Linked DNA regions of Homo sapiens: regions 1, 3 and 4 are each linked to region 2. Evidence: fine-mapped expression QTL. A gene starts in region 2. Each other region holds a variant in brackets. All regions are shown on one strand. Distances are between the middles of the regions. Region 1 overlaps RSBN1 (round spermatid basic protein 1). Region 2 holds the start of PTPN22 (protein tyrosine phosphatase non-receptor type 22). Region 3 has its middle 32 kb from the start of MAGI3. Region 4 overlaps AP4B1 (adaptor related protein complex 4 subunit beta 1).

The links.
Region 1: its variant is fine-mapped to the expression of PTPN22 in whole blood (TOPMed, PIP 0.97).
Region 3: its variant is fine-mapped to the expression of PTPN22 in whole blood (INTERVAL, PIP above 0.99).
Region 4: its variant is fine-mapped to the expression of PTPN22 in whole blood (TOPMed, PIP 0.94).

Annotation. Positions count from the first base shown.
Region 1 is chr1:113,784,855-113,793,047 of GRCh38, forward strand. All of the region lies in intron 2 of RSBN1 (round spermatid basic protein 1), which reads right to left. Among named protein-coding and RNA genes, the nearest start is that of RSBN1, 24 kb to the right of the region's middle. The variant C/T (reference allele first, on the strand shown) is at 3,839.
Region 2 is chr1:113,867,526-113,875,712 of GRCh38, forward strand. PTPN22 (protein tyrosine phosphatase non-receptor type 22) reads right to left here and starts at 4,187. Exons shown (of 21, transcript NM_015967.8): 1 at 4,012-4,187. The coding sequence starts at 4,098. All of the region lies in intron 3 of AP4B1-AS1 (AP4B1 antisense RNA 1), which reads left to right. RefSeq lists enhancers at 3,325-3,374, 3,933-4,192.
Region 3 is chr1:113,354,131-113,362,323 of GRCh38, forward strand. No RefSeq gene overlaps it. Among named protein-coding and RNA genes, the nearest start is that of MAGI3, 32 kb to the right of the region's middle. The variant CCT/C (reference allele first, on the strand shown) is at 3,473.
Region 4 is chr1:113,892,714-113,900,906 of GRCh38, forward strand. AP4B1 (adaptor related protein complex 4 subunit beta 1) reads right to left here. Exons shown (of 10, transcript NM_001253852.3): 5 at 7,191-7,687; 6 at 6,005-6,088; 7 at 5,127-5,230; 8 at 3,545-3,752; 9 at 3,044-3,325; 10 at 1,481-2,779. The coding sequence ends at 2,352. AP4B1-AS1 (AP4B1 antisense RNA 1) reads left to right here. Exons shown (of 5, transcript NR_125965.1): 4 at 5,155-5,276; 5 at 7,159-8,193. Among named protein-coding and RNA genes, the nearest start is that of AP4B1, 8.0 kb to the right of the region's middle. The variant C/G (reference allele first, on the strand shown) is at 4,923.

The DNA.
Region 1 (8,193 bases), 83 kb before region 2:
TGAGTGAGTGGTGAGTGAATGTGAAGGCCTAGGACACTGCTGTACACTACTGTAGACTTTATAAACAGTGTACACTTAGGTTACACTGATTTTTAAAATTTTTCTTTCTTCAATAATAAATTAACTTTAGCTTACTGTAATTTTTATAAACTTTATGAGTTTTTTAATTCTTTGACTCTTGTAATAACACATAGTTTAAAACACATTGTACAGCTATACAAAAATACTTTCTTTACGTCCTTATTCTGTAAGGTATTTTCTACTTAAAAACTTTTTTTTTTACTTTTTTTAAACCTTTTTTGTTAAAAACAAAGATACAAATGCACACATTGGCCTATGCCTACAACAGGGTTGGAATGATTAATATCACTGTCTTTCATCTCCACATCTTGTCCTGCTGAAAAGTCTTCAGGGGCAATAACACTCACGGAGCTATCATCTGCTATGATAACAAAGCCTTCTTCTGTAATATCTCCTGAAAGATCTGTCTGAGGGTGTTTTACAGTTAACTTTTTTTTAATAAGTAGAAGTATGTTCTAAAATAATGATAAAAGGTATAGTAAATATAGTAAGTGATAGGAATTTTTCAGCTCCATTATAATCTTATGGAGTCAGCGTTACATATGCAGTCTGTCATTGACTGAAACGTCACTACATAGCACATAAACATATATTTTATGCCACTGTACTCAACACAGGTATAGCAAACCAGACCTATTCCTGGCCACTTGAAGCTTACAGTCTAGTAAGGAGAGGCAGACACTAATCTAAATAAACATTTAATTATAAACTTTGATCTTCAGAATGTAAGATGTATGACACTATGAAAAAGAACATGGGATCCTGATCCGGGGAATAAAGTATTCCTTGAAGTAACATTGAGCTCAAATCTGAAGAACAAGTTCAGAGGGAAACAAAATCTCTTAAGCATTGCCCTTTCCAAGATCTAAAAGAAAGCTAATGATAATAAACACAGAAAGCAAAAGAGAAAAATAAAGATGAGACTGGAAAAATCAGCTGTAGCTGGATTATGGAGAGCCTAGAAGATCACATCAAGGATTCTGGAAAGCCACTAAAGGATCTGAAAAGAAGGAAAGTTACCCAATTTGCCTTTGGTTTTTTGTTTGTTTAGTTTTCTCAGAGGGGCACAAAAAGTAAAGAGATCAGCTAGGAGTATTCTATAATATGCCAAATAAGAAATGTTAGGCTAAGCTAATAACTTGATTTTAAATAGGGACTTCTTTTTAAAAGAAAAACAAAGAGATCTGAAAATTATACAGGAGATAAAATTGTCAAGATGTGGACAAAGATTGGATATGATAGATAAGAGAAAGAAGTATGAAAGATGACTACCAGGTTCTGTACTTTGGAACCTGAAAGAGCAACTACTCTCTCTTCTGGAGGAGGATCAGGTTTCACTGTTTTGGACATGATGAGCCAGAAGTATGTGATAGGTTGAAAAACGGCTTCCAAAGAACCTAACCCCTAGAACCTAATCCCCAGAATCTGTGAATGTTACCTTATGGCAAAATGGACTCTGCAGATGTGAATAAATTAAGGATCCTGAGATGGGGAGAGTCTCCTGGATTATCCAGGTGGGCTTAAATGTAATAACACGTGTCTTTTAAAGACTGAGGCAAAGAGATATTTGAGAAGGCGATGTGATGATAGAAGCATAGCCTGGGGTAATATACTTTGAAGATGGAGGAAGGGGCCACAAGCTAGGAAATGTAAGACACAAGAAGCTAAAAAAGGCAAAAACTTGATTTTTTTCCCTCAGAGCCTTCAGAACTGTAAGAAACTAAATTTGCGTTGTTTTAAGCCATTGTTTGGGGGCCAGGTACTGTGGCACACACCTGTAATCCCAGCACTTTGGGAGGCCAAGGCAGGCGGATCACTTGAGTCCAGGAGTTCAAGACCAGCCTGGGCAACATGGTGAAACCCTATCTCTACTAAAAAAATACAAAAAATTAGCCGGGCGTGGTGGTGAGTGCCTGTAGTCTATTTCTAAATTTTCTATCTTGCTGAACAGAGCTCATAAACTAATTACACTGATTTAATAATTAAATCTTTAGAATATATTGGTACCAGGTAAGGCACTCCTCCATCGTTACTTTTTCTTTTCTGGCTGTTCTTGCCTACTTATTTTTGCATATAAACTTCAATATCTGCTTGGTTGTCTCAAAAAACAACTATTTCTATTTTATTGGGATGGTGTTCAATTTATAACTTAGGAGAAATTGTCATTCTGATATTGATTCTTCTTCCCCAGGAACACAGTAATATATGTTTCCATTTAAGTCCTCTTTTGTGTGATCATGTTTCAACACTAATAGGAAGAATCTGATAAAGATGAAAAGGTGAAGAGGACTGCTGTTTAAACATGGTAGACTGGATGTATGATTTTTTTCTATTCCTTGTCAAAATCCCACTCAAGTGAGAATAAAATATCAAGGCTAAAATCCCAGATAGTCAAAGAGAACAGAAGTAAAAACTACAGATACAAGCTATCAAAATGTTTTTGGAAGGTGAAAAATGTACAGGGAAATTTGCAAACTGAGAACTCTGGCTAACTTTTATAGAAGGCAAGAACAAAGCATGCAACTAAAAACAAAAAAGGTGGGTTTAAAATCTGCTTGAGTCAGTGAGACCCTTCCACTTACATTCTACCTTCCTATCCCATGCTCCTTTTTCCTCACCTTATTTGTGGTAAAAGTGAACTAAATGACTACAGACACAAGGATACAAGGCACAAGCAAGGGAGAGAACCATTACACTGGAAGCAGGGAATTAAGCAAAATCCCAGTTATTTAACAATGCAATCGCCTACCTCCTTCCAAGAATTCTAGCAGACAGGTGTGTAACCTACTCCATCCCCTGACAAAAATGTGGTAGATTTTTAGCTGTAGAAACTAAAGGCCCAAGAAACAATATCTTTAAACACTAATATTTAGAGCTTTTCTCACAATATGACCACATTCCCTATCCAGTCTTCAAATGACAAATCCCACCCACGTGTTCACTGAGTTTCTAATGTTTTATAACGACTCATGTTTCAATATGAACAGATCACCATGTTTGATGAAAACATAACCAGAAGACTAAAATAAAAATAAAAAAGAACTTGAACAACTTAAGAGTATAAAAGAAAACTTAAAAACAAGTATAATTAGTATCAGAGAGATGAAAAAAGGTATTGTATCCATGAAACAATAGGAAGTTATTAAAAAAGGGACAGAGAACAAGAACAAGCTCTCAAACTGAAAACATTACAGCTGACATTAATCAACATTAAGAAGCTAGTTAAATCTACCCCCAGAAAGCAGGAAAAAAGACAATGAAAAATATAATAGGAAAGATAAGAAAATTGAGGTTGAATCGGGAGGCCTAATATACAATTAATAAAAGTTTCAGAAAAAAACGATAACTGAGAAAGAAAATTAACAAGTAATACAAGAAAAAACTCCATAAAGGATGGATTTCCACATAAAAAAGGGTGGTGGGGGGTAGGGTTCAACTGCACTGATGATGTTTTATTTCTTGGGCCAGAGTGATTGTTATTATTCTTTATATCTGCGTCTGAAATATTTCATAGTAATTTTTTTTAAAGAAAAATGATCCATCTCAAGGCACATTATCCTTGGTACTCAGACATTCTGTAGTAGAAATTCTGAAAGCTTCCAGAGAGAAAAAAGCAGAACAGCTAAAAAAAATCAGGAATCATTATGGCATTGGATTTCTCAACAGCAACACTGTAAGTTTAAAGGCACTGAAGCAATGCCTTTATAAAGCTAAGAAAAATGACCCATCAATCAAATGTTACAGTTAAAGAAAAATT[C/T]TTCAGATGTGAGAATTGAGCTACTGAATTCAGGCAAGAGTCATGGAATGCCAGACAGGAGAAAGGACAAATAGAAACCCCAGGATACATGCGTGGATAAAAAGACCTATCAAAATAGGAAGATCCCTTGGCCAGGAGTTTGACATCAACCTGGAAAACACAGGAAGACCCTCTACCTTGCCCCCACCCCGACCCAAAAAAAGACATTTACACAAATGCTTACTGTAACACCATAATATTATAAAACTGTAAACAACCTCAATGTCCAAGAATAGGAGAATAAATAGTGAGTGTGATATTGTGCAATATGTATCTGGTCTTCATCCCTATTTCCTGAGGTAGGGCTCCTAAACTCCTTGTTATCTCCAAATAGCTCTATTTTTGTATGCTAATATTGACTAACAGCTTTAGGGCGGGGCTGGTCACCTGAAAAATAAAGGTACAATTAGAGGGTTGGACGGTCAGCCCTACCCCCAACCTCCAGGGAGGGGTGCTAAAGGTCAAGCTGACCACCAACGGCCACTGGCTTAATCAATCAAGCCTACATAATGAAGGCTTCATAAAAACTGAAGAGGTTCTGAGAGCATCTGGATAGCTGAACATGTGGAAGCAGACAGGAAGATCAACAGGAACTCATACATTTGCTGGGAGGGTGGCATACCCCAACTCTACGGGGAAAGAAGCTCCTGTGCTCGGGACCCTTCCAGACCATGCCCTGTGTATCTCTTCATATGGCTGTTTATTTGCACCCTTTAACATATCCATCACACTAAACCCATAAACATAAGTATTTCCCTGAGTTCTCTGAGCTACTCTAGCAAATCCACTGAACTCAAAGAGGGGATCGTGGGAACCCCAACTTGAAGCCAGTTGGTCAGAAGTTCCAGAGGCCTGGACTTGTGACTGGTGGGAAGGAGAGGCCAGTCCTGGGGACTGAGCCCTCTATCTGGGATCCAAAACTGACTCTGGGTAGTGTCGGAATTGAATTGGATGACACCCAGCTGGTGTCTGCTGAAGAACTGATTGCTTGCTTGTTGTGGGGGAGAAATCTCCCACATTTGGGCAAAGAAGTCTTCTGTGTTGATTGCTGTTGTTTGAGAGCAGAGGAAAAGTAAAGTGTTCAAAAACAGTGATACAGCTGCCCAACAAAATACCAAATATAATGGTTAAAATTAATGTAGAGTTAGATGTATCAAAATAATCTTCAAAAACAATGTTGAACAAAAATAACCTGCAGAATGATACACACAATACACTGTAGTTTTAAAATACAAAGGTACAAGTATTGTTTTTATGTTCATTTGGTATTAGTAAAATGTTAAAAGATAAAACGACATGATAAGCCACAAATTCAGAATAAAGATTTACTTCTAGGGAGAAAGGAAAAGTTTATTTAGAGAAAAAAAAAGCGGGGGAAAGACACGAAGCAGAAATTCGCTTAATATATTTTATACTTTTAGTTACGTGGGGAGTGGGAATGGAGAAGGGAAAGGTTGGAGGGGTAGTAGCGGGTAACTGACATCAAAGATCCTAACCTAATGGGTATAGAGTTTCTGTTTGGTATGAGGAAAAAGTTCTGGAAACGGTAGTGGTAATAGAACAATATATATACCCAATGCCACAGAATTATACACTTTAAAATGGTTAAAATGGTAAATTTTGTGTATATTTGACAACAGTTTTTTAAAAACCTTAGCAGGCTAAGGGATGGTATTCATAACACAAGTAGACAAATTAGCCTGACAAATTAGCCTTTGAGGAGGAGATAGAATATCTTCTCTACTGTAACAGGAGAGAATGAGGAAAAGATGTATACAGATAAAGTTTAAATAGTATTTATGAAGAACAGGTAAACAAGCTAAACAAAGAAAAGAAGTAGGCTTCCCAGGCAATGTTGACAACCCAATGGGAAGCATTATAAAATGTCATGAAGAGACAAAGTCCCCAGTGATGGCCAATCAAAACATGATTTTTTAAAATTTGCACTTTGTAGAGGTCAGATAAGATTATCTCTTAGTTTATGATGCTCTGAAATTCTAAAAAGATGCTATCTACAGGTCAAATGAAAGGAACTAGAGTAATGGTAGATGGTATATGGTTTAAAACAGTGTTTCTTAAACTTGCCTGATCATAGGAATCAAGTCGGTCAAGGTACTTATTTCATGCCTCACTCCAGACCTCATGAACCAAAATTTCCAGAAGAGGAACCTGAGAGTCTAATGTATATTTGAACTAGCAACCCCAAATTATTCTTAGGATCTGGCAAGTTTGGGAAACTCTGGCCTGGAAATAGCAACTGAAAACAAAGAACAAGTTGAATTCTACAGCTTTCCGGAGTTTATGTACTGGAGCACAGTGGAGGAACAAACAGAATTGGGAGGACTGGAGGGAGGTAAGTACGAGACCAAAGAACAGAAAAAACTAAAGCTGCCATGGAAGCAGGAGACATAACGCCAACAGGAAAAACACAGTCTTTGGTAAAATCAGAAGGCAAAGTGGGGAGGGGAGAAGGATGTGGCATCAAAGAGAAATATGCCTATTAAAAAAAATAATAGTTTTGCATAAAATTTATTCTCTTTATAATATCTATAAAATGTTAAACAATTATCTTTGAATATATATACTGCTGTCAATACATATGTAGTGTTTAAATTAGAAACTCAACTTCACAGTTATCCTGTATGAATTTCTGAATTAAGTAAGCTCAACTGTGTCCCCAATACATAGAGCTTCTACAAAGGACAATTATAAATCTGTTAATAACTCAGGAGAACACCAAGCTAAAAAAGCACTATGTGGAAAACCCTGTGTATGGGGGTTGAGAGCGGGTGTGGATTATTCCACAGAACTCACGTTTCAGGAAGAAGCCTATTCAAGCTGACTTTTTAAAACACAGAAAGGAAAAAATTAGCCAGCGATCTTCCTAACCTTGTGCCTTGTGAATAGAAAGGCATTCCTACTTTAAAATATATAGTGAAAAAACAGTGTGACTGGGTCAAAGTGAGTACTTAAAATAAGAGGAAAAAAAAAAGAATCAAGCCTACCATTTTTATTTATGCCATTTTATTTTATAAAACCTGCTACTTAAAATGTTTATTTCTCCTTTTCTATAACACACTAATAATGCATACAGTTCCTTAAGGGTTTCTGAGCTATTTCCCAAGCTATATACTACTCTACTAGTTCTATTCTTATTAGTATTACCAATTCATTATAAAATGTTAATCAATCAAAGATCAGAGTGCATATAACAAGCCCATATAAGGCCTTGTCCCAACACACAACGAGGGAATAACATTTTTTGTTTTTCTCTGGAACCGTAGACACTAAAATTATACACGCCAATGCTACAGAACATTATCATTTTATAGAGTAATAAAAGTAATATAAGAAATAAAACTACCTAAAGTTAAAAAGCTTTGATTCTCAGTGAAACCTCAAAATTATATATGAAAATTTTTGAAAAAGATACTTAAAACATGCAGATTTGCCAATCTTCCCTACCCCCAGCAAACACATAACACACACTCCTCTCCATGTACATCCTTCAATTACTTAGTTGCCAGAAGATCTCAGAGGTGATATTGAAAACAATTCCCTTTTAACTTCACTGTATTTTTAGTGTTTGTTATTATTTGCGCTTGCAATTTATGTACAGATTTTGAGACCTATATGGCCTTGGTGGTCCATTTACTAGCAACATCAGCATCACCAGAAAATGCAGACTATAAGCAAAGCTAGTGCTCACACCTGTAATCCGAACATGCTAGGAGGCCAAAGCAGGAGAATCCGTTGAGACCAGGTGCTCAAGACTAGCCTAGACGACATAGTGAGACTCTGGCTCTATAAAAAAATTTTTAAATTAGCCAATTGTAATAGTACACACCCGTAGTCCTAGCTACTCTAGAGGCTGAGGCACTGGAAATAGCACCTGAAAGCGAAGAACAAGTTGAGTTCCACCACTTCCTGAAGTTTATGTACTGGGGTACAGTGGAGTAAGAAACAGTAGAAAGACTACTAGAGCCTAGGAGTTCAAGGCCTCAGTGAGCCATGATCACACTTCATGATCACACTTCAGCCTGGGCCACAGAGCGAGACCTCATCAAAGAAAGGAGAAAGAAAGGAAGGGAAGGGAGGGGAAGGGGAAGGGAGGAAGGAAGGAAACTCAACTTTATAAAGTTATCCTGTATCAACTGCTAAGAGTTAAGTAATCAAACAAGGATCAGCTTACTGTTTCAATGGACATATAAATTTTTCTGCTCTGGTATTAGAACATTTGAGTTTTCTAGAATGTTAAAAGAAAACCCTATATGTGGATCCTAGCTTTAGCCACCACAATAATTTAAAAATATAAA
Region 2 (8,187 bases):
AGACTATCACAATTATATTAAATATTTAATATAGCAATTAGTTGTTTAATGTCTGCCTCTCTAAGACATATCTATTGCCTTATAACATAAGCTCCACTAAAGCATGGAGCATTGCATTGCATTCCTAGCATCTAGGGCATTACTTTGCACACAATAAGCACTCAATGAATGTTTATATGAATGTATAAAAACCTTAGATGGGTGGTCAGTGGTAGTTTCAACTACAGAAAAGTTACTGAATTTAGTCCTGGCACAGGGAAAAGACATAAGCAGCATGGCACTGGCTTCAGCTGCCATTAACAGGACTGCCACATCCAATTATGAATACAGTCCTCTCACAGTATCTGTGGGGGACTGGTTCCAGGACCACCCCCTTCAATTACCAAAATCTGTGGATGCTCAAGTCCCTCATATAAAATGGCATAGTATTTACACATACTATACATGACCTCTTGTATATTTTAAATCATCTCTACATTACTTATAATACCTAATACAATGTAAATGCTAGATAAATTGTTGTTATGCTTTATATTTTTTATTTTTTGTTGTTGTGTTATTTTTGGTATTTTTTTCAAATATTTTTGATCCATAGTTGGTTGAATCCAAGGATGTAGAACTTGGGGATACAGACAGCCATCTGTATTGTTCTCTGTACAAAGATGTATGGCCAAGAAGGAAGTGGAGACTGAAATCTGAACCATGGACCTGGGGAGAGGGTAAAGGGGTTAGGATGCTCAGGGAATCTACCTGGAAATAGAGATGCCTTTTGATAATTCCCTTAAAGTTACCACCAGTTAAGTGAACAGTGGCCTTGTGTCACAGAATGAGTCCTCAAACCTCGGAAACATAAAATCCTGGGAGAATACATTAAGGGCTTAAGATGGGACACAGAACATGACCAGATGGAAAGCCCTCTGATTTAGTGGCAGTATTTACCTTGTCCAAGCAAGCAGTCTAGCCTCATTCACTACTCCTCTACTCCCCCAAAGCTCTCTATCTGGTGTCTCATCTGAAACCTTTAGATGGAGCTGAGAGGAAGACTCTATTTTTCCACTGGAGGACATGAGTCAGTGAACAGTGAGGTTACACTTAATCACTACCCAAAAACAAGGTCCTTAAAATCAGGAGCTAGAAAAGCAAGGAAGTGATTAATATAAAAGTCAGGATAGTGATTATCCCTTGGCCAGGGTAGGACAGGACAGGGGCAGATGGGTGTAGGGGACCTGATGGGGCATGGGTCTTCGGGGGTCTGACAGTTTCTTGACTTGGGTAGTGGTTGCACTGCTAATGGTTGCTTTATAATTATACTTAAATGTTTTATGTACTTTTCTAAATGTGTATTATATTGCACAATATTAAGCAGCTAAAAAAAACTATAACAAGTTTTTAAGCAGGGAAAAAATGACCAGATTTGGCTGGGCGTGGTGGCTCATGCCTATAATCCTAGTACTTTGGGAGGCTGAGGCGAGTGGATTACCTGGTTGGACAGACCAGCCTGGCCAACATGGTGGAACCTTGTCTCTACTAAAAATACAAAATTAGCCAGGCGTGGTGGCTCATGCCTGTAATCCCAGCTACTTGGGAGGCTGAGGCAGGAAAATCGCTTGAACCAGGGAGGTGGAGGCTGCAGTGAGCCGAGATGGTGTCATTGCATTCCAGCCTGGGTGACAAGAGCAAAACTTTGTCGCCCCCAAAAAAAAGACCAGATTTGTATGATTAAAAGATCACTTGGGTGTTGAACTGAAAATTGACTGAAGGTGGGGCAAGGCTAGAGGCAGAGAAGCCAGTTAGGAGGTAGCTGCTATATTTTGGTGAGAAATTATAATGACTTTAGCTGAGAAAAGGTAAAATATTAGGGATATAGTCTACATTTTTTTTTTTTTGAGACAGAAGTTCGCTCTTGTTGTCCAGGCTGGAGTGCAACAGCTCTATCTCAGTTCACTGCAACCTCTGCCTCCCGAGTTTAAGCGATTCTCCTGTGTCAACCTCTTGAGTAGCTAGGATTACAGGTGCCTGCCACCACGCCCAGCTAATTTTTGTATTTTTAGTAGAAATGGGGTTTCATTATGTTGGCCAGGATGGTCTCAAACTCCTGACCTCAGGTGATCCACCCGCCTCGGCCTCCCAAAGTGCTGGGTTTACAGGTGTGAGCCACTGCCCCCGGCCAGTCTACATTATTTTAAAAAACACAACCAAAATAAAACAGAGGCCGGCACTGCCCCTCAGCTCACTTTTTACATCTATGCCTTGGGTTACCTTGGCTTAGGAATTATAGTCCAGGGGCAGGGACATGTATACACATGTGCTAGAACTTCCTACTTATCTCCTTTCAGGTAACTCTACCAGAGGGGCTCAGACTGATCAGCCAGTGGCAGTGAGAGCACATTTTTCATAGTACCACAAGATTATCCATGTTGAGCTGACATCGGAGTTCCTATCATAATATCTAATCACTCAATAATATCTAATTACTCAAGACTTTCAGAGTGTTTTCACATCTGCTATCCGGTACCAGAGTGTTAGCTCCAGGAGGCAAAGGTTTTGGTTCTTTTTGTTCACCGCTGTATTTTTAGTGCTTAGAACTGAACTTGGTACATACTAAGTGCTCAATAAATGGTACTCAATAAATGACCACATTTAATGATTGTTATTGATATTTAATCATCACAACAATCCTGTGAGGATAGGTAGGACATGTATTATTATCCCCATTTTATAAGTTAGAAAACAGAGAGATTTAAGAACATGTCAAATACTTCATAATTTGGTGAAAAAAAATCATGATTTAATTTCAGGTTTGTACTTCAGTTCCCCTCTTTCCACCCATTTCTTCACAACTGAAGAGCTAAGGTTTAAAATTCTTATATCTCTGAAACGCCAGCTGTAAGCATTCTAAAATACATGATAGGTACTATTAGACACCCTATGTTATCTGATATCTCAGCTTGTAGGGTGAATGAGGCCTACCCAGCTGCCATTGCATCAATAATCACAGTTCTCTCAAAGGAGATTCACTGTTCTTCTGGGTAATCTAATCCACCCAACCTGAAGCTACCTTGTACTCATGTTTCTCTCCTTGACCTACACTTGTCTCTACTCTCCATCCTAGCCATTCCACTTCTCCAAGCAAAAGAAGTTAAGGAAGCCCTGTTATTGAAAAAACACATGTTATAATATATTTTTCATATGAAAAAGAAAAGAAAAATGATGGCCAGACATAGTGGTTCATGCCTGTAATCCCAGCACTTTGGGAGGCAAGATGGGAGGATTGCTTGAAGCCAGGAGTTCGAGACAAGCCTGGGCAAAAAAGCAAGGCTCGTATCTACAAAAAAGAAAAAAACAATTTTTTTTTAAATTAGCCAGGCATGGCGATACACACCTGTGGCCCCAGCTACTCAGGAGGCTGAGGCAAGAGAATCACTTGAGGCCAGGAGTTCAAGGCTACAGTGAGCTGTGGTTGCACTGCTGCACTCCAGCCTGGGTGACAGAGTAAGATTCTGAATCTTAAAAAAACAAACAACAACAACAAAAAAAACTGTGGCAGTGGGTAGTTTTGGTGCTCTTCAAAAACCTTTGTCAACCAAATAGAATCCCAGAGGGGAGGCTAAAAATGTAATATTGCATGAAAAGTTAACATTGGTCTCTTTCTTCTTAATATTAATTAAAATTAGTAATATAAAGCATAAACCACAACTTAGATACCTGGGGAAATCTGGATGTTCAATTAATATTAGTGTTTTTACATCTGGAGTTGTATATGTCTTCTGTAGGATTCCTAACCAAACTCCAAAGAACTAGCAAACAAAATATTAAAACCAGTAATTTTGAGAGAATACCTGAAATACATGCAAACCACTCAGAGAAGTCAAACTTTTTTTTTTCTGTCTTCCCCGCCAAGGTCTCATATTTACTTTATCCCAAGAGCAATTTGGTCTCGGAAAATTGGACCCCCATAGTCAGTTAAATAGTGTATGTAACTACCCTGAGAGGGTCACATACAGGACTCACCAGAAATTCATTGGCAAACTCCTCTTTAGTAATTTTCTTGCTTTGGGCCTCATCCAGGAACTTCTGCAGAATTTCTCTTTGGTCCATGCTGCAGAGCAAGAAAAATAGTCTATAAGTAGGTTGAGGGAGGGCATGTCAAATGTGTGTCATGGCCGAGACACCTCCAAAAAGCCACTGCTGCCGCCTGAGCAGAGCATGCTGAAGGCTGTGGTTTACTGACTTCATCACAAGCCCTAGAGGAAATTAGTACGTAACCACCTTCTGTGGTCACATAACACAGCCATCATCTCACTCCAGGGCCCTAGTGCCTTCCTTCTCAGCAAAGGAACCTGGTTACAATTCAAATTTTTAACAAACAAGAGGCTAACTAGAACGTAAAGTGTGGTCTGCTTAACTGAGATTATTCCATTCCATCACCCATATGCAAAACTCACCTTTCTTCTTGCCTCCCAGAGAAAGAACAGAATTACAGGTCTCCTGAATGAGTTCTGTCTCTCCCCATTTTCCCAGTGAGCACAAGGGCCAAGTTGACACCTTCTGTTTCCTTATGTCCCAAATGAACTCTGCAAAGTTCAGTTAGGCCCAGGAAAGAAGACAGACACTGTTTAGAGTGAGTGACATGTCTTCTACCCGGACTGTTCATCGAAAGGTTTCTTGTCAGTGTGATCAATGAGAAACTTCTGTTCATCACAGAAGGTATTTTTATTCATAACTTTTAAGTCTGCTATATATACCTCAAACTCCCTTTTGAATGAAGCAAAGTCAGATGCTTCTGACAGTCTGTGTCTCTCCCAGGACTGGGGAAGTGCTGACCTCCATTAAGGGAAGTGTTGATTTCAGCACCTCTTCAACCCTCCCAGTAACCTTTGAAGCTTCACTTGGGTTCTGGATATAAAGACTAAGAGTGTTGGTCTATATAGGATCTAGAGCAAGTGGCCCCCACAAGGAGCACCTGACCAGACAGTTAGCTCAATACCCTGCATATGTAATGCTGGTAAACTGTGATGGAACAAAAAGAAAGTAAAATCAACCACCTTGCTGACAACATTGTAACTTTTAGGGCAGAAAGCCTGAAGAACTGTTTCTAAAGAACACATTTCTACTCTGCAACCAATGTCTTAGGAAATAAATTTGTTTCAGGAAGTTATGCTGTGCCTGTGGCATTTTGGCCCTGAAAGGCAGGCTCTTCTAGAAAAACTTTCCACATTTGAGCTTGCATAACCTCTCAATGGGTACAAGTCTACCCAAGTGCCTAATTCAGTGTGAGAACATCCAAAAATCAGTATATCATCTTTATTGAAGGCAGAAGTTCAACAAATGTTAACAAAATTAGTCTTGATCCTGAAGAAAACTGGGAAATGTGTTGTTAGGACTTCCTCTATTTAAGATATTAGCAATCCTTTCTGTTTTGCAACATTATTCAAACTTCCTTCAGGATATCATGATTCTGAACACTGCTTAATCTGAACATTAAAGATACTGCATGCTCTTTACTAAGTACTGCAAAAAAAAAAGAAAGATCATCGAGATATCTTGGTTATAGACAACTTAAAGACAATATTTCAAATTAAGAAACTCAATCCCAGTATACATAAATTAAAATAAACCCTCATTCTTCAGCAATATTTGTTAGGAATAGTATATTTCTTAAATTATCCCCATCTAGAATTAAGAGAGAATTTCTTGCTGCTCTAAGTAACGTGATGTTTACTTTGGCTATTTTAAAACATAAAATATGGGAAATCTTTGATTTATAAAAATACAAAATTTCAAGTTTGTAATAACTAAAACCATGTAAAAGTGTGTACATAGTTAAAGACTAAAAGAAGCAAAAAAGAATCAATTGTGTAAGTTTGCTTTCTAAAATTATCATAATTTTAGAATTATGATAAAGTTTGCTTTCTAAAATTATCATACCGTTTTTAAAATTAGAAATAAACATTTAAAAATCCATTAAGTTGTTCAACAAATTTATTGAGTACCCACTAAATTCTAAACATTGTCTTAGGAGATTGGCATACAACACTGAGAAAGCCAGAATATGGTAAAAACAAAACAAAACAAAACAAAAACATCCTTAGCCAGTTAATAAAGCAACTCAGAACTAAAGATACAGACATGATTACTGATAAAAATTAAAACACTCCTTAGGTAACTTTGGGAAAGAAAATAAAAATAAAAACATTCCAAACTAACTTGCTTAATTGCAGAGTAGCAAAGCATAATCCTAAAAGGAAAATGATTTTCTATGTTTGGACAAAGAAGATAATATAGTTTTATAATTTCTCTGTACCCTTAGAATGTCCTCAATTACACAAAACTAGAACTTTATTAATTTTTATTAATTGATGAGGCAAACCTGCCTAATAAAATTTAAATCTATTTTTCTCAAGCCTATATTTCAGCACAATCTCTTACTAACTTTCTTGTTTCTTCTTAATGAGGGAGAAGACAGAAATAAATAGGAGATAACAAAAAAAATTTTGCTTAGATGCCTCCATAGTCCCTTTCCTCAAAATCTAAGAATCTGTAAATAGTGTCTTGGCAGAACTTCACACTTTTTTAAAAAAGCAAGCAGCAATCTATTCTACTGTAAACCCAAAAGGTATAGAGACATTGTGAAATAACCAAACCCCCAAAACCCACTTAGCTACAAGGCCATTTCCTGAGCAGACCACTCAAGCAAGCAAAAAACAAACTGAAGAAGAAAACAAAAAACTTTAATTATTTTTTTTGTTTTGGGTTTTTTTGTTTGTTTGTTTGTTTTGTTTTGAGACAGGGTCTTGCTATGTTACCCAGACTAGTCTGGAACTCCTGGGCTCAAGTGATCCTTCCACTTCAGACTTCCAAGTAGCTGGAGCTATTATTTTTTTTTTAAAAAAATAAGCTACTACTTAATTTATCACACTTCCTTCTACAGAGCACAATGCTTTTTGATGAAGATTGTGTTGACTCATTTGTATCTTGCGGGAAGATAAAGAGCTGGGGAGGGGAAACAAGACATGCAGTAAAGGTTGGCAAATACCTAAAAGAGTTTCAGAATTTATGATGAATCATTTAAACCAGTCTGGCATAAAACCTAAGTGAACACAATTCCATGCAATAAAAAAAGACTCACAAACATTTTGCCAGAACCATCAAGTAAATTGTGGGAAGTAAATTGTGGATAAGCACCTGAAGAGGAGTGACAAGGCCACATCTCACTGCTGCCTCATGTGGCTGTAGTGCTTGGTCAGAAGGAAGAACACAACAGAGAAGAGTGCTGGTCACCATGTCACCTGTTCCAAGAAGAGGGGAGTATGCTAGTTTAAGGGGAAATATCAGTATCACAGAGGTCAGGAATTAGATTACAATAAACATTAATTGAGGAGAATTTCAGGGAAGACTACAAGGGTAAGATAAACTATTCAATAGGAAAAACATTCAGGATTCTCAGAACATCCTTCTGTCTTTTAGATGAGGGGGAGACATGTTTTACCCTGGAGAAGATACTTACCCAACCTTAGCTTTAGTTTCACTACTCTTGCCTTTCCCTACATTCCAGGGTCATTGATTTGATATGGGATATATATACTGTCTGTGAAACATTCAGTCCTTTGTAAGCATTCTTTTGATCACCAAGGCCTATTGGAAATTTCTCCTCAATGTCTTTTAGATTCAACCTGTCTTTTCCATTCCCACTTAGCCCCATTCCCACTTTCACACCCGGATTCCTATAGCAATAAACTTAGAGTATCTTCCTATCTATATGTTTCCATTCTAGTATCTCCTGTTAACCAAGGCTGGATGAAAGTTCTTAAAACTGCACTTTAATGCTAAAGAATCAGAATAGTTATTGATGATCTACGGGAACAAGTCCAGATTCCTTAGCTTGTCACCAAGCCCCTCCCTGTCAACTATCCCCACCCAACCTATCCAAGCACATCACCTACAGACCTCGTTCGTTCTACTACCACTTTTTTCTACTTCTCACCTTTACCCCTAAGTTTCACCACAATGAAAATAAAACCATAAAGCTCAATTTTTCTTCAAAAATCTTGCCCCTAACTCTGTTTCGCCATGATCTTCCCTTAGTCTGAATCTCTTCAATATAAATCTGTATATTCAGCTATAGAAGTTTTCATTTATTCAATTTCCTTGTCTCCTATAAGTTTATTTAAGAGTTTATTCAAAAGA
Region 3 (8,193 bases), 510 kb before region 2:
GCTGTTTTTAACATCTGATGAAATCTCTGGGTGAATTTTCTTCTGAGACTGAACATGCTACAATGCAAATTGTATACAAGCTAAAAATTAATCTTCATATAGTTGTACTCTGGGGTCACTCAACATTTAAACGCACATTGCCAAGAATACTGTTTGTCTGCAGAATCATAAATGCACAAATGAATTACTCTTACGATGGTCATGTGATTATAAATTTTCTCAAAGGCTTTCAACTTAGTAAATAGCTTGCTACCTTACATGTAAGGACATTTCAGTTTATCATTTTCATTAGAATCTCTAGTGTCATGGTACCTTTTTACATTTTGTTATTTTTAATTAGATTTTTTGTTTTTTCATTTTACTGGCTTTCCTTAAATTTTGCTTAACATTTTATTTGGCATAACTTACATAGCAGGCAACAAGATAAAAATATGTTCTTTTCAATTTAGAGAAATTAAGTAACTATGTTGCAGATCTGTAATTAAGGTCTTGATTAGTTACACTTTCTTAATTTGGTGATTCACATCTCTCTTTGTCCTGATCAAATTATGTCATCATAAAGAAATAGTTGTAGTGGTTAGAAATGCCTGTCAAGGCCAGGCGTGGTGGCTCATGCCTATAGTCCCAGCACTTTGGGAGGCCAAGGCAGGAGGATTGCTTGAACCCAGGAGTTTAAGACCAGCCTGGGCAACGTGGCGCAACCCAGCCTCTAAAAATATAAAAAATTAGCCAGTGTGGCGGTGCGTGCCTGTAGTTCCGGCTATTTGGGAGTGCTGAGGCAGAAGCATTGCTTGAGCCTGGGAGGTTGAGGCTGCATTGAGCCATGATAGTGCCACTGCACTACAGCCTGGGTGACAAAGTGAGACCCTGTCTCAGAAAAGAAAAAAGAAGAAAAAGAAATACGAATGCCTAGCAAGATTATTTTCTTCTAAGATTTTATTTATTTATTTATTTATTTATTATTATTATTTTTTAAGACGAAATCTCAATCTGTTGCCCCCAGGCTGGAGTGCTGTGGTGCAGTCCAGCCTGGTCTCACTGCAGCTTCAACCTCCTAGGCTCAAATGACCCTCCCACTTCTGCCTCCCAAGTAGCTAAAACTTCAGGTGCACACCATCAAGCCCAGTTAATCTTTTTTTTCTCTTTTTGTTTTTTTTTTTGTTTTTGTTTTTGTAGAGACAGGGTCTCGCTATATTGCCCAGGCTGGTCTTGAACTCCTAGCCTCAAGCCATCCTCCCTCCTCAGCCTCCCAAAGTGCTGGGATTACAGGCACAAGCCACTGTACCTGGCCTACTTACTTCTTTTTGTTCAACATTCATTGATACCTTAGGAGAATGGCTAGGTTCTGTGGAAAAAAAGCAATGCAAGGAACTTACTTACTAGTAGAGATGCTCAAATATATACAAAATTGATTATACTATGAAGTAGAAAACATTGACAAAAAAGAGGTACAAATAAGATGTATCAAAAATATAAAGTAATAAGAAGCCACTAAAGGTTTTTTAGCAGGCAAATGACAAGACCAGAGGTGTACTTTAGAAAAATTAATCCTGTAGCACAGTGTTGGGTAGATTATGGTGGTAGAAGAGAAGGCAAGGAGGATGGAAAGAGGAGAGAGGGAAAAGGGGCGAATGAAAAACTATTAATATTAAAGAGGTAATGTGAAGTAGGGTATTGGTAGTAGAAACAGAAAAAAGATCTGGATCCAAGAAATAAGGCTATGGTGAAACTAATAGGTCATGGCTACCAATTGAATATGAGGAATGAGGGATGGGAAAGATTCAAATGAAACACTGATACTTCAAGAAAGGAAATGTGCCACTAATAAAAATGTAGAAGGAGCATTTTCTGTTCTTATTTATTTATATTTCTTTGCAATATTTTTTACAATGTGTTTTATATGCATTGAGAGCTAGCCCACTGCATTAGAAGATTTTTTATGTTTCTCTTATGATTCACTAGTCATAGCAGCCTCTATTCCTTTCTGGAATAAGTTGCAGTATAAATAAATGAATACGCATTCATTATGCTTGATTATATAATTGTGCTTCCCTCTCAGCAAATGTCTCAAGGTAATAATGTAATGGCGTCTGTTCGTAACTAAAATCCAGGTTGTTTTTTTAAGGGATGTTTTTAAGCTATATTGTGTTTGTTATACATTTTATAACATTTGTTATATTTCTTGGCAATAAGTAGTAGCTTTTACAGAAAGGAGCTTTCTCATTTTAATTTGGGATCAGGTAAACTAATAATTATTCTATTTTCCCTTAAATAGGCATTCATGCCATTTTATAGTAAACAAACCATTGTTAATACTTATCCCTTTAGAATAAAATTGCTCTTCATTCTTTGTTAACATGATATAAACTTTCAGTAACAATTATAACAACAACACAACCACAGCTGAACATTTATTATATTTAAGGCATTGTTCTAAGTGCCTTTTACATATAATCCTCATAACTCTTTGAAGTAGGTACTATTAGAATCTAATGTCACAGATGAGACAGAGAAGGCAAGTAACTTGCACAATGTCACACAGCTAGTAACTGTAGGAGCCAGAATTGAACTCATGCAGTGTGGTTCCAGAGCCCATGTGCCTGGCAACTGCGTCCTCAAACACTTCATCCATATGTAAGACAGTTGAGTTAGACCAGCCTTATACTTAAGAGAGTGCATCTCTCTGCTATCTGTCTAAAAATTTGCCTTAAGTAGGGTCTATTTTAATAGAGAAAAGGAAAAACTTTTCATGCCCATTGGCATTCTCAGAAGACTTAATCATCAAGAGTCTGCAAAAATATAATTCCCTTCACACCAAGACATTTGATTGGTAATTTAAAAATACTCACTTCCTGTAGATAGCTGTAGGAAAGAAGAGTTCTTTATTTGTATTTAAGCTGAAAGTAGTAATAGAAAAAAAGGATAATGAATAAAGTTGAGTTGATTTTCAGTCAGTAAAGCCAATCAATTTCAGTCAGTAAAGTCAGATGTCTGTTCATTATAACAGTGAAGTGGGATTCAAGGGAGGGTGTGAGTCCATTGCTGGGAGTGAGGTGCTCATGGGCAAGAAAAGGAAGCTTTATGGAGACTGTGATATTTACGAAGGTTTTTTCAAGATGAGATGTTGACAACTCTCCTCATGGATGCCTATAAGAAACATAAATCTTTTATGTAATTCCAAAATCTGAAAGGACTGAATTATTTCTGAAGATACTGAAGTCTAGAAGTACATTTCATCGGAAACTCATTTGCCAAATGCCTTTATGGAAAATATCTTCATAGATCACATACACTGAAAAGATTACCTAACATATCTCAAAAATGCATCACGTGGATGGGCCCTGAATCATGGAATCATCATCCTTTATGCTGTTTGGTTACCTTGTGCACTTTCATGAGTTTGAACCATGAAACCAAGCAAGCCTTACACACACACACACACACACACACTCACTCACTCTCTCTCTCTCCC[CCT/C]CTGTCTCTCTCACACACACACACACACACTTTATCTTTCTGCATCTTAAGCAGTATTAAGAAATCTAAGATAAAATGATTTTCCCAGAGGAACAGTATAAGATTAACATTTTTAATCCTATTTTTATTTTCAATTTAAAATATCCCCCCATATGAAATTAAATATGTCTGACATGGTGTCCTCCAGTTTGCCAAAAGCTAAATGACTTTAAATGCAAATTATATTTTATTGAAAAACTCACAAGTGTATATACTATAGTTGTCACAAATACACATATTTGTGACAAAAAATAAATTTCCCTGCTTTTTAAATCTTAAAGCAGTATAGGCAGGAGAAAAAAAGTACTGCTTTTGCTATTTCTTGTCTAGAATCAGTCTTATTTTGAGGCTTCTAATACTTTGAAGTTTTATACAAACACTGCACCATTTTGAAAGTAGATTTTCTGGCTGTGCACAGTGGCTAACACCTGTAATCCCAGCACTTTGAGGCTGAGATGGGAGGATCCCTTGAGCTCAGAATTTTAAGACCAGCCTGAGAAACATAATGAGACCTCATGTCAACCAAAATAATAATAAAAATAAAAAATAAATAAATAAATAATAAGCCAGGCTTGCTGGTATATGCCTATAGTCTCAGCTACCTGAGAGGCTGAGGTGGTAGAATTGCTTGAGCCCAGGAGGTCAAGGCTGCAGTGAGCCATGTTTGTGCCACTGCACTCCAGTCTGGGTAACAGAGCAAGACCTTGCCTCGAAACAAAATGCACTCCAGCCTGGATGACAGAGTAAGACCTTGTCTCAACAACAACAACAACAAAAGCCTGGCTGTGGTGGCTCACACCTGTAATCCCAGCACTTTGGGAGGCCAACACGGGTGGATCACCTGAGGTCAGGGGTTTGAGACCAGCCTGGCCAACATGGTGAAACCCCGTCTCTACTAAAAATACAAAAAATAGCCAGGCGTGGTGGCAGGAGCCTGTAATCCGAGCTACTCGGGAAGTTGAGGCAGGAGAATCACTTGAACCTGGGAAGTGGAGGTTGCAGTGAGCCAAGATCGCACCATTGCACTCCAGTTTGGGTGACAACAATGAAACTTCGTCTCAAAAAAAGAAAAAGAAAGAAAGAAAAGAAAAGAGTAGATTTTTCATCTCAAGCTGCTGAAGGATTTTACCCCAAGATAGTATTCTCTAGGTCCCTAAACCTGCCATTCTCCACATTTCTCAAAGAAAGGGGTATGAAGATATGGCATAGTGGAGGCATGTATATTGTATATTTTAGAAATTGCTTCAAAATTGGTGGAATCAAGAATTATATAACCAGTGAAGTGTCTCTTAGAGTCTTGTCCTAGGACACAGTGGATCTCAAAAGCTGGTCCCTGCCTTGCTCAGGAACTTAGAAATGGAAATTCTGACACTCTAGACCTTCTGAATTAGAAACTCTCTTGGAGTAGAGCCCAACAGTCTCTGGTTTATCCACCCTTCTGGCTGATTCTGATAGTGCTAAAGTTTTGGAATCATGCCACTAAAATTTTGAAACTACTAGAGTCACCTGGGAGGTGGTGGGCTTACTGCAGATTAAAGGGCCCTACTGCATACCAAAATCTCTAAGGGTGAAACCCAGAAATCTCTTGTTGGGAGCAAGCCCCACAAAGTCTGGCCATAAACTGGCCCCAAAACTGGCCATAAATAAAATCTCTGCAGCAATGTAACATGTCCATAATGGCCATAACGCCCAAGCTGGAAGGTCGTGGATTTACAGGAATGAGGGCAAGGAACACCTGGCCCGCCCAGGGCGGAAAACCGCTTAAAGGCATTCTTAAGCCACACACAAAAGCATGAGCGATCTGTGTCTTAAGAGTGTGTTCCTGCTGCTGGATTCGGTTTGCCAGTATTTTATTGAGGATTTTTGCATCAATGTTCATCAAGGATATTGGCCTAAAATTCTCTTTTTTTGTTGTGTCTCTGCCTGGCTTTGGTATCAGAATGATGTTGGCCTCATAAAATGAGTTAGGGAGGATTCCCTCTTTTTCTATTGATTGGAATAGTTTCAGAAGGAATGGTACCAGTTCCTCCTTGTACCTCTGGTAGAATTCGGCTGTGAATCCATCTGGTCCTGGACTCTTTTTGGTTGGTAAGCTATTGATTATTGCCACAATTTCAGATCCTGTTATTGGTCTATTCAGAGATTCAACTTCTTCCTGGTTTAGTCTTGGGAGAGTGTATGTGTCCAGGAATTTACCCATTTCTTCTAGATTTTCTAGTTTATTTGCGTAGAGGTGTTTGTAGTATTCCCTGATGGTAGTTTGTATTTCTGTGGGATCGGTGGTGATATCCCCTTTATCATTTTTTATTGCGTCTATTTGATTCTTCTCTCTTTTTTTCTTTATTAGTCTTGCTAGCGGTCTATCAACTTTGTTGATCCTTTCAAAAAACCAGCTCCTGGATTCATTAATTTTTTGAAGGGTTTTTTGTGTCTCTATTTCCTTCAGTTCTGCTCTGATTTTAGTTATTTCTTGCCTTCTGCTAGCTTTTGAATGTGTTTGCTCTTGCTTTTCCAGTTCTTTTAATTGTGATGTTAGGTTGTCAATTTTGGATCTTTCCTGCTTTCTCTTGTGGGCATTTAGTGCTATAAATTTCCCTCTACACACTGCTTTGAATGCGTCCCAGAGATTCTGGTATGTTGTGTCTTTGTTCTCGTTGGTTTCAAAGAACATCTTTATTTCTGTCTTCATTTCGTTATGTACCCAGTAGTCATTCAGGAGCAGGTTGTTCAGTTTCCATGTAGTTGAGCGGTTTTGAGTGAGATTCTTTATCCTGAGTTCTAGTTTGATTGCACTGTGGTCTGAGAGATAGTTTGTTATAATTTCTATTCTTTTACATTTGCTGAGGAGAGCTTTACTTCCCAGTATGTGGTCAATTTTGGAATAGGTGTGAGGTGGTGCTGAAAAAAATGTATATTCTGTTGATTTGGGGTGGAGAGTTCTGTAGATGATCAAGTGGGCTTCATCCCTGGGATGCAAGGCTGGTTCAATATACGCAAATCAATAAATGTAATCCAGCATATAAACAGAGCCAAAGACAAAAACCACATGATTATCTCAATAGATGCAGAAAAAGCCTTTGAAAAAATTCAACAACCCTTCATGCTAAAAACTCTCAATAAATTAGGTATTGATGGGACGTATTTCAAAATAATAAGAGCTATCTATGACAAACCCACAGCCAATATCATACTGAATGGGCAAAAACTGGAAGCATTCCCTTTGAAAACTGGCACAAGACAGGGATGCCCTCTCTCACCACTCCTATTCAACATAGTGTTGGAAGTTCTGGCCAGGGCAATTAGGCAGGAGAAGGAAATAAAGGGTATTCAATTAGGAAAAGAGGAAGTCAAATTGTCCCTGTTTGCAGATGACATGATAGTATATCTAGAAAACCCCATTGTCTCAGCCCAAAATCTCCTTAAGCTGATAAGCAACTTCAGCAAAGTCTCAGGATACAAAATCAATGTACAAAAATCACAAGCATTCTTATACACCAACAACAGACAAACAGAGAGCCAAATCATGAGTGAACTCCCATTCACAATTGCTTCAAAGAGAATAAAATACCTAGGAATCCAACTTACAAGGGATGTGAAGGACCTCTTCAAGGAGAACTACAAACCACTGCTCAAGGAAATAAAAGAGGATACAAACAAATGGAAGAACATTCCATGCTCATGGGTAGGAAGAATCAATATCGTGAAAATGGCCATACTGCCCAAGGTAATTTACAGATTCAATGCCATCCCCATCAAGCTATCAATGACTTTCTTCACAGAATTGGAAAAAACTACTTTAAAGTTCATATGGAACCAAAAAAGAGCCCGCATCACCAAGTCAATCCTAAGCCAAAAGAACAAAGCTGGAGGCATCACACTACCTGACTTCAAACTATACTACAAGGCTACAGTAACCAAAACAGCATGGTACTGGTACCAAAACAGAGATATAGATCAATGGAACAGAACAGAGCCCTCAGAAATAATGCCACATATCTACAACTATCTGATCTTTGACAAACCTGAGAAAAACAAGCAATGGGGAAAGGATTCCCTATTTAATAAATGGTGCTGGGAAAACTGGCTAGCCATATGTAGAAAGCTGAAACTGGATCCCTTCCTTACACCTTATACAAAAATCAATTCAAGATGGATTAAAGACTCAAACGTTAGACCTAAAACCATAAAAACCCTAGAAGAAAACCTAGGCATTACCATTCAGGACATAGGCACGGGCAAGGACTTCATGTCTAAAACACCAAAAGCAATGGCAACAAAAGACAAAATTGACAAATGGGATCTAATTAAACTAAAGAGCTTCTGCACAGCAAAAGAAACTACCATCAGAGTGAACAGGCAACCTACAAAATGGGAGAAAATTTTCGCAACCTACTCATCTGACAAAGGGCTAATATCCAGAATCTACAATGAACTCCAACAAATTTACAAGAAAAAAACAAACAACCCCATCAAAAAGTGGGCAAAGGACATGAACAGACACTTCTCAAAAGAAGACATTTATGCAGCCAAAAAACACATGAAAAAATGCTCATCATCACTGGCCATCAGAGAAATGCAAATCAAAACCACAATGAGATACCATCTCACACCAGTTAGAATGGCAATCATTCAAAAGTCAGGAAACAACAGGTGCTGGAGAGGATGTGGAGAAATAGGAAC
Region 4 (8,193 bases), 25 kb after region 2:
AAAAAAAAAAAAAAAAAAAAAGGTTGTTCAATGGGGAAGTCCATTCAATAAACAACTCACAAAACCCAGGCTCTTACCAGAAAATTCAATACTGTCTGTTATCTACTCCTATTAAGAGCTTAGTTGAGGCTGGGTAACACTTGAAGTCAGGAGTTACCAGCCTGGCCATCATGACGAAATCCCATCTCTACTAAAAATACAAAAATTAGCCAGGCGTGGTGGTGCATGCCTGTAGTCCCAGCTACTTGGGAGGCTGAGGCAGGAGGATGGCTTGAATCTGCAATGTAGAAGTTGCAGTGAGCTGAGATCACACCACTGCACTACAGCCTGGGTGACACAGCAAGACTCCGTCTCAGATTTAAAAAAAAAAAAAAAAAAGGCTATTTGAGAGAAGTGATAGGTGAAAAATTATCTGAAGGTATGTGCTTATCTATATCTAGGTAGTAAAAATCCTTGAATTAAGCTGGATGATAAAGGCTATATACTTGGATCATGTTATCTTAAGTCCTTGAAGAAATGCCTTCATTAAGCACCATGTTATTATTATTATTATTATTATGGAGACAGGGTCTTGCTCTGTAGCCCAGGCTGGAGTTCGGTGGCATGAGCATAGCTTATTGCAGCCTTGACCTCCTAGGCTCAAGCAATGCTCCCACCTCAGCCTCCCAAGTAGCTGGGACTACAAGCACACGCTGCCACACCTGGTTAATGTTTTACTTTTGTAGAGATGGGGATCTCACTACATTGCCCAGGCTGGTCTCAAACTCCTAGCCTCAAGTGATCCACCCACCTTGGTCTCCCAAAGTACTGAGATTAAAGGCGTAAGCCACCATATCTAGCCTACTTTTTTTATGTTCTTTTTTTTTGACAGGGTCTCCTGTCACCCAGGCTGGAGTGCAGTGGTGTGATCACTACTCTCTGTAACCTCAAACTCCTGGGCTCAAGCAATCCTCCTGCCTTAGCCTCTTGAGCAGCTGGGATTTCAGGCATGTGCCACCATGCCTGGCTAAGTCAATTTTTTTACAGACAGGGTCTCACTATGCTGCCCAGGCTGATCTTGAACTCCTGGCATCAAGCAATCCTCCCTCCCTGGCCTCCGAAAGTGCTGGGTTACAGGTGTGAGCAACTGCACCCAGTCTAAGCTCTGTATTAAAGTCATGCTCTCTGCTTTCGTTGAAGAATACTGTTAAGAAAGTCATGTGAAACCCATTACTAACTTCTCATAGGATCTTGCACATATCTTAGTACCACCTATGTGAAACTACATGTACATTTCTTTTAGAAATCAATGTTTCTTCCTCTCTGATGACAATTATAACTGTTTCCCTTAACTCTGACTGCTAAATCACCTATAGAGACAAATCAAGGCTCAACTATATCACCTAATAGGCCCATACAGCCTGAACATTTGTATATTTCCCCATCCCCAACCTAGCTGGTCTTAACTGGTATTTTAATTTTTCCCATTCTGGATTCGCTATTTATATTTTACCATCATTTTATTAGATTTGTTCTTGCCATAAGTTGCTTCAATGTACAAAATGTGGTCAGATAAGAACAGAATAAAAATTGAGGACAAGCAACAAGAAAACAATTACAATACTACTGCTAGAGGTATGCTCTGGCTACTTTGATAGCTTGAGGGAGGCCCCTAATGAAGGCAGTGAGGGTTAAAGGAAACTTCCTGAAGGAGCTTATGAGTGAGCTGAACACTGAAAGATAGACGAGGTGTTAATTCAAGAAGATATGAGGGTGAGAAAATGTTCCAGGCAATAAATAAAAGCAGGTTTAAGTTAACACAGAGGTGAAAGAAGCAGGTGTATAAAGGGAACTGCAATGCAAATGGTTTGCTTCTGCCAGAAAAGAAGTCATTTTGGGAGTGGCAAGACTTGACACCAAAGAGGTACTTTAGATGACATTAAGGACTTTGGAATCTGGCCTAAAAGCATGATTGGAAATATGAGAACAGTTAGGAATTTACTATAATAATCCAGGGAAGAAAAGATGACCCCCACAAATGATGACCCCTATCAGTTTCCACACATCAGCCATCTTTAATTACTAACACAATTCCTAAAATTGATTAGGAAATAATCCAAATCCCATCCTCAACGCATCTCCTTACCAACATTAACCTCTACAACATCATCACTGAAAAATGGGGTCAATTGCCAATAGGAATGAAAGGAATGAATCAATGTTCTTTGGCCAAAAACTTAAGAATCCTGATTTCTAGATTTTCCACTCTCCTTTGTATCTGATATTATCTGGACTTACTGGCAGCTCTAATAGGAAAGACTAAGAAAGTGTAATAGTTATTCATCTTACTCTAGACAAGCAACAAGACTCTGTTATGATTTTATTTCTTCAATTGTTCCAATCACAGTTTCTAATACAGAAATAAAACTATTCAGCGTCTCCGTTCTTGCTTCATTTTGTTTCACAGAGATCTGCATTTCTGAGTTTCCAGGCTCCAATAGCAGTTCTGTTAAGAACAGACAGCCAGTATCATCCTGAGCACTGAGGTATGCTTTCCATGGCCGAGACCCAGCCCTACTCATTGCGATGGTCTGGATGTTCACTACTTGAAGAGCCATCTGGAGGGTGTCAGGATGGAATTCTCCCCGCCAAGGCAACACTTGCTGATGAGCAACTTTAAGGCTAAGCCAAGTTTTCTCAAAATAATCAGCAGTAAGCTGGCGATTGGGGACTAGCATGAGGGCTCCAGAATCAGGGAGTTCTTGTACCCTCTCCTTGTTCTCTTCAGGAATCAAGGGTCCTAAAAGAGACAGAAAACTTGTGTGAAAGATGTTCTTAATCTGTAGGAGCTAAGTTTTTTATCCAAATTCCCAAATGTACACAATGTGACTTTTATTTTTGGACAAATGGCTGAAATAACCAGTGACGAACCTCTTTCTTGCTCACAAATGCTTCAAATTCAGGCAACAGTCTGAGGTTTAGTGCTAAGATACTCTACTTTCCACCAATCATTGAAAAGGTAAAGATTTATCATGACAAGATTTAAGGTAAGGACTGTTTTTACCTGATGCGGCAAAGGATGAAGTTTTAGGAAGCTCTGGGTCACAACGCTCTGCCCCCTGGCATTTAGAGATAGTTGCCCAGTGGGCTTTGCCATACACTGGCACCAGTGTGTTGAAGTCTGAGGCCCAGCTATTCACAGGTCTTTCTGCCGGATCCTCCAAAAGTCCAAGAGTAGGGTCAGATTTAGGGCTACACAGAATCCGCTTAACTTCATCAATGCCAACTAAGAGGAGGCGATAATAGAAGAGACCTCGGTCCCGTACAGCCATATCTTTTTCTTCCTCTGAGGTAAGACAACAGATTGACTTCATTAAAAACAAAACCACTTTCCTCCTACTCTTGTGCCAACCATAATAGGAGAAAAAAATGAAGGAGAGAGGAAAACCTAGGAAGCATTCACATTTTCTTCTCGGGTCCCAGACGTGACTCACCAAACAATGAAAGCTATTAAGAATTTTTACTATGGGTCATGGCAAATACTATTTCCTTCTGAAAAACCCACCTATGCAGTAATACAACAAACGTCCTAGCATGTCCTGGCACTCAGCAGGTCGGGAGAGGAAAAGGCGCAGCAAAGCAGTGAGCAGCTCCATCTTAACAGCTGGAAATGTTTCCGACTTCACATTCTCAACAAAGTCCTCTAACACATAAGGAGCATTAGGAATTCTTTCCCCATGGACACCAAGTAGCCAAATAAGTGCTTGCTTCCCCTAGAGAATAAAGGAATAAGAGCAAGTGCTCAACACTTGACTGTCTAAAACACAGGAGATAATAGACAGCCACTGGTTTTGCTTTTCGCTTAGTGCCAGCAGAAAAGGTGTAATCTTTAGTTTACTTCATTTAATTTACTGATTCCCCGTACTATACTCTCTACAACAAATAGGAATGAAATTCTAATACACAAGAGGAAACTCAAAACTTTCATAGCCTATGTTGGATTAAGCAATAAATAAGGTTTCCTCAGGTTTGGGGCCTTTGGCCCTATTGGGTTTTAGTGTTTCAGTGGAAGCTGCTCAAAGAATTTCTCTAAATTTTTCACAAAAATGGTTACTAACCTAGAGTGCACATCAGAGTCATCTGTGAAGCTTCTTAAAAATGTATCTGTCAGCCGGGCACGGTGGCTTACGTCTGTAATCCCAGCACTTTGGGAGGCCGAGGAGGGTGGATCACCTGAGGTCAGGAGTTCGAGACCAGCCTGGCCAATATGGTGAAACCCGTCTCTATTAAAAATACAAAAATTAGCCAGGCGTGGTGGTGCACACCTGTAGTTCCAGCTACTCGGGAGCCTGAGGCAGGAGAATTGCTTGAAACCAGGAGGCGGAAGTTGCAGTGAGCTAAGATGGCATTACTGCACTCCAGCCTGGGCAACAGAGCTAGACTCTGTTTCAAAAAAAAAAAAAAAGTTATCTGTCTAGGTCCAACACCCCTGAATATTTAAGTCAGTAGACCTGTGATTACGTCCAAATCTTTGTAAAAATTTCACAAATGATTATAATTTTCATTCTAGCTAAAAACTCCATGGTCTAAATCTCTGACTCAAAACTGTTCAAGAGAAGCGGGGCACAGTGGCTTATGCCTGTAATCCTAGCTCTCTGGGATGCTGAGGTGGGTGATCACTTGAGGCTAGGAATTCTAGACCAGCCTAGACAACATAGCAAAACCCTCTCTACTAAAAATACAAAAATTAGCTGGGCGTGGTGGTGCACACCTGTAATCACAGCTACTCTACTCAGGAGGCTGAGGCAAGAGAATCACTTGAGTTTGGGAGGTAGAGGTTGCAGTGGGCCGAGATCACGCCACTGCACTCCAGCCTGGGCAACTCTATCTCAAGCAAAGCAAAACAAAACAAAACAGAACTGTTCAAGAGAACAATGGTATCA[C/G]AGTTTTGTAATAAAACCCGTCGGATAAATCTTGTTTTTATAATTTATATGCCATCTATATCCAAAAGAGAATCTAAGGTGGCAATCAATTCGAAGAGTGCCCACTTCAAACACAGGGTAGAGAGAATAATTAGATTCCATTTCAAAGGGCAGGGTTTCAAGCATTCTCCCCCTACCTAGAAGTAAAGGAGAATTACAGTCTACCTCACTATCTTGAATGTTCTCTTCACAGCCGGGCAGGGCCTGACATACAGCTTCAGTACACTGAGGACACAACCAAACCAGGTCTCGGAAAGTCTGCACCACCACTACAATACAGGCCAGGGTACAAGAGCACAGGATTAGAGCCTCCAGGTAGGCAGGAATCTTAAGAACAGTCATGTATTCAGACTCATGATTCTGGCTGGATTTCTGTAAAATGGGTTTTGGAGGTGTGGTCAATGGTTATCTAAGAAATGTAATGAAATAAGCAATAATTTCTTGAATGCATATTGCTCTTATCAGATTGACATGAGGATAAATGAACTAATGTATGAAAAAGCACTTTGTAAAACATAAAGCTGTATGCAAATGTGGGGTAGTATTGCTGTTGAATGAAACACTAAAGACAGTATAAATAGAACCACCAGGCCTGGGAAAATGATAACACAAGTGAGGTGCCTAGGGTTCAAAATTGAAGAAGACATGCAGGATTGGCTCTTGCAGGAACCTAAGAGTGAGTGCCTTCTTAAATTTTGCATCCTAGGCATCTTGCTTGACTTACCCTTGTCCCAACCCTGGAAGCCACTGCCTATGGCATACTGCCATAAAACAAAAAGAGAAGTAAAGATGGTGAAATATCAAGCAAGGTCATCCTAGTAGCCTTCATTATCTATAGTACAGCCTTATAGATCATGGCAGCCTGAAGACTCAATATCCTATTAGATCTATAGACTTTATGCTTCTCTAACAGCAACAGATGATGATGCAAGGAAAAGTTCAAATCTCTATATTACTCATTCAACAACAAACATGTTTTGAGCAACTACTATAGGCCAGGCACCTGACAAAAAAAACAAAAATCCTAAAAAGGCAGGCATTACCTGTGGTAATGTGCTCTTGTCGAAGACCCAGCAACTCTGTTAAAATCTGAACACATTGATCTGTGTAAGTCCTGGCAATGCCACCTACAAAAGAAGGGAAAGCAGAGAAAACTGCTAAGTGAAATATTAGCACCTCAATCTAAAATCATCTCCCACCAGTGAAAGACAAAAGAAACAGAATTATCTAAAAAAAAAAAAAAGAAAAAAATTCACTCCTTACTTGATGAACTAAGAATATAAGTTTACTATAAAGGGAACTTTGGTAAAAATCATTTTTTCTCACTGACTACTAGAAAACTGAAAGCTCATAGCAAAACAATTCCCCATTAAACAAGGTTGAAAACTTATAGTAACAAAGGTATTTACATGGCAGCCAGATATGAGGTACCCTTTTTGTTGCAGCACACCTGCAATGGAGTATTTTTGTGGGGGACACTTGACAGCAGTCTCCTAAGGATTTCTTGTCTCCTCTTTGCTCCCTCTTCTCTGCCCCTAAAATAACCATGCTTTATTCCAAATATGAGGGTTGCTCCTCCTCCTGTACTTGAAATCCTTCAAAACTTGGCTCAACAGCTGTTTTCAGTTTTTGAGTCACTCCAGCCTTTCAAATTCCAGACAGGGTACTATGAAAAAGTCTGTAAGATTTAGGAATTATTCTGTGTTGGTCTACATTCAGCACAATACATAGCCCATAGCAGAAGCTCAATAAATGACTGGTGGATTAACATAGGACTTTGAGTCAGGAAAGCTGGATTTCAGTCCCATTTCTAAAACTATGTGCCCTTTTGGCAATTTGATAACTGTTTTTGTGCCTGAGTTTCTTCATCTTTAAAATGAAGTTAATGACATTTGTCTACTTTTCCTGACTGTCTCACGATACTGTGGTAAGATGATGTATAGGAAAGCATTTTGGATAGAAGACAACAACAATTTTAAGTATTGTAGTTTGTGTTACCTGTATTCTCCATCCTGGAAGATACAGCAACACCAATCTTGACCAAAAAAAAACAAAAAACAAAAAAAAACTCTCTTCCCCCGTGTTTGTAGTCACTGACCCAATTATTTAGTGCATAGTACTTTGCTTCTGAAGCAAGATTCATGCCCTTTGCTCTCTATGGTTCCTCTAACCACAGTTTTCTTGCTGGCTGGTCTAGGTTCTCAAGAAGGAAAAGGAGCAGACACCTACCTATGGCAAAGATGGCAGCCTGTGCAAAGTCCGCAGACACATCCGTGCAGTACCCTCGAAGCTCCTCTAGCACCTGCTGCACATTCTCATCGTTCACCAGTTCACACAGCACCTCCACTTTCTGTAGTTTGATGTAGTGGGGCTCCGAGTAGGAGCAAAAAAACTTTTTGTAGTGGCTGCTAAAGTGACCTGGTAAACTATGCAAGATCTGGCGTACATGACAAAGAGCAACAAAACAGAGCTCACGGCTCTCTGAAGAACAGGCAGCTAGCAAAGGTCCCTTGACCCGCACAAGGACATCAGTTTGTACGTGGGGAAACATTTTTGCCAAGATCAGAAAAAGTTTGGTAGCTCCCATCACCACACCTGGGCTACTGCTCTTGAGGAAACTATCCAACAGATTGAGAATGTCAAATAGTTCTTCCTCACTGCGGGGTTGGTAGCGTAGCAGAAAGTTCAATACTTCAGCCTGGCCCCATTGGTCCAGTTTTGACATTCTATCCAAAAAACAAAACAAAAGAGCTATTTTAGCAACAAAATTAGGACCATTTCCATGCCACTGCCATATGACCAGGTGGTTGTTCATCATAGCAAAGGGAGAATTCTTAAAAATAGGCTGTGCCATAATTAAGTCACTTTTCATGTACTATTTAAAGTTTACACAAAAAAGGCTTAAAATTCCAAGATGAGTTGTTAATACAAATGCACACTCCTCTAAGACCAAAGACATGATCAGCATACACTGGGTCCAGGTTCCTTACATTTTAAGACACTATAAATGGCTTAGTTTGGGGGACATGACTAGAGAAGGGTAGAACCTATTCCCACAGTATATTTCTATTTCCCTATATCAATAAGGGAAAGTAAGGCAAATAAAAGAAATTCTCTCAGTGGAATGTGAGGGAGTTAATAGTGGTTAACTGGCCGGGCGCAGTGGCTCACGTCTGTAATCCCAGCACTTTGGGAGGCTGAGGCGGGCGGATCACCTGAGGTCAGAAGTTTG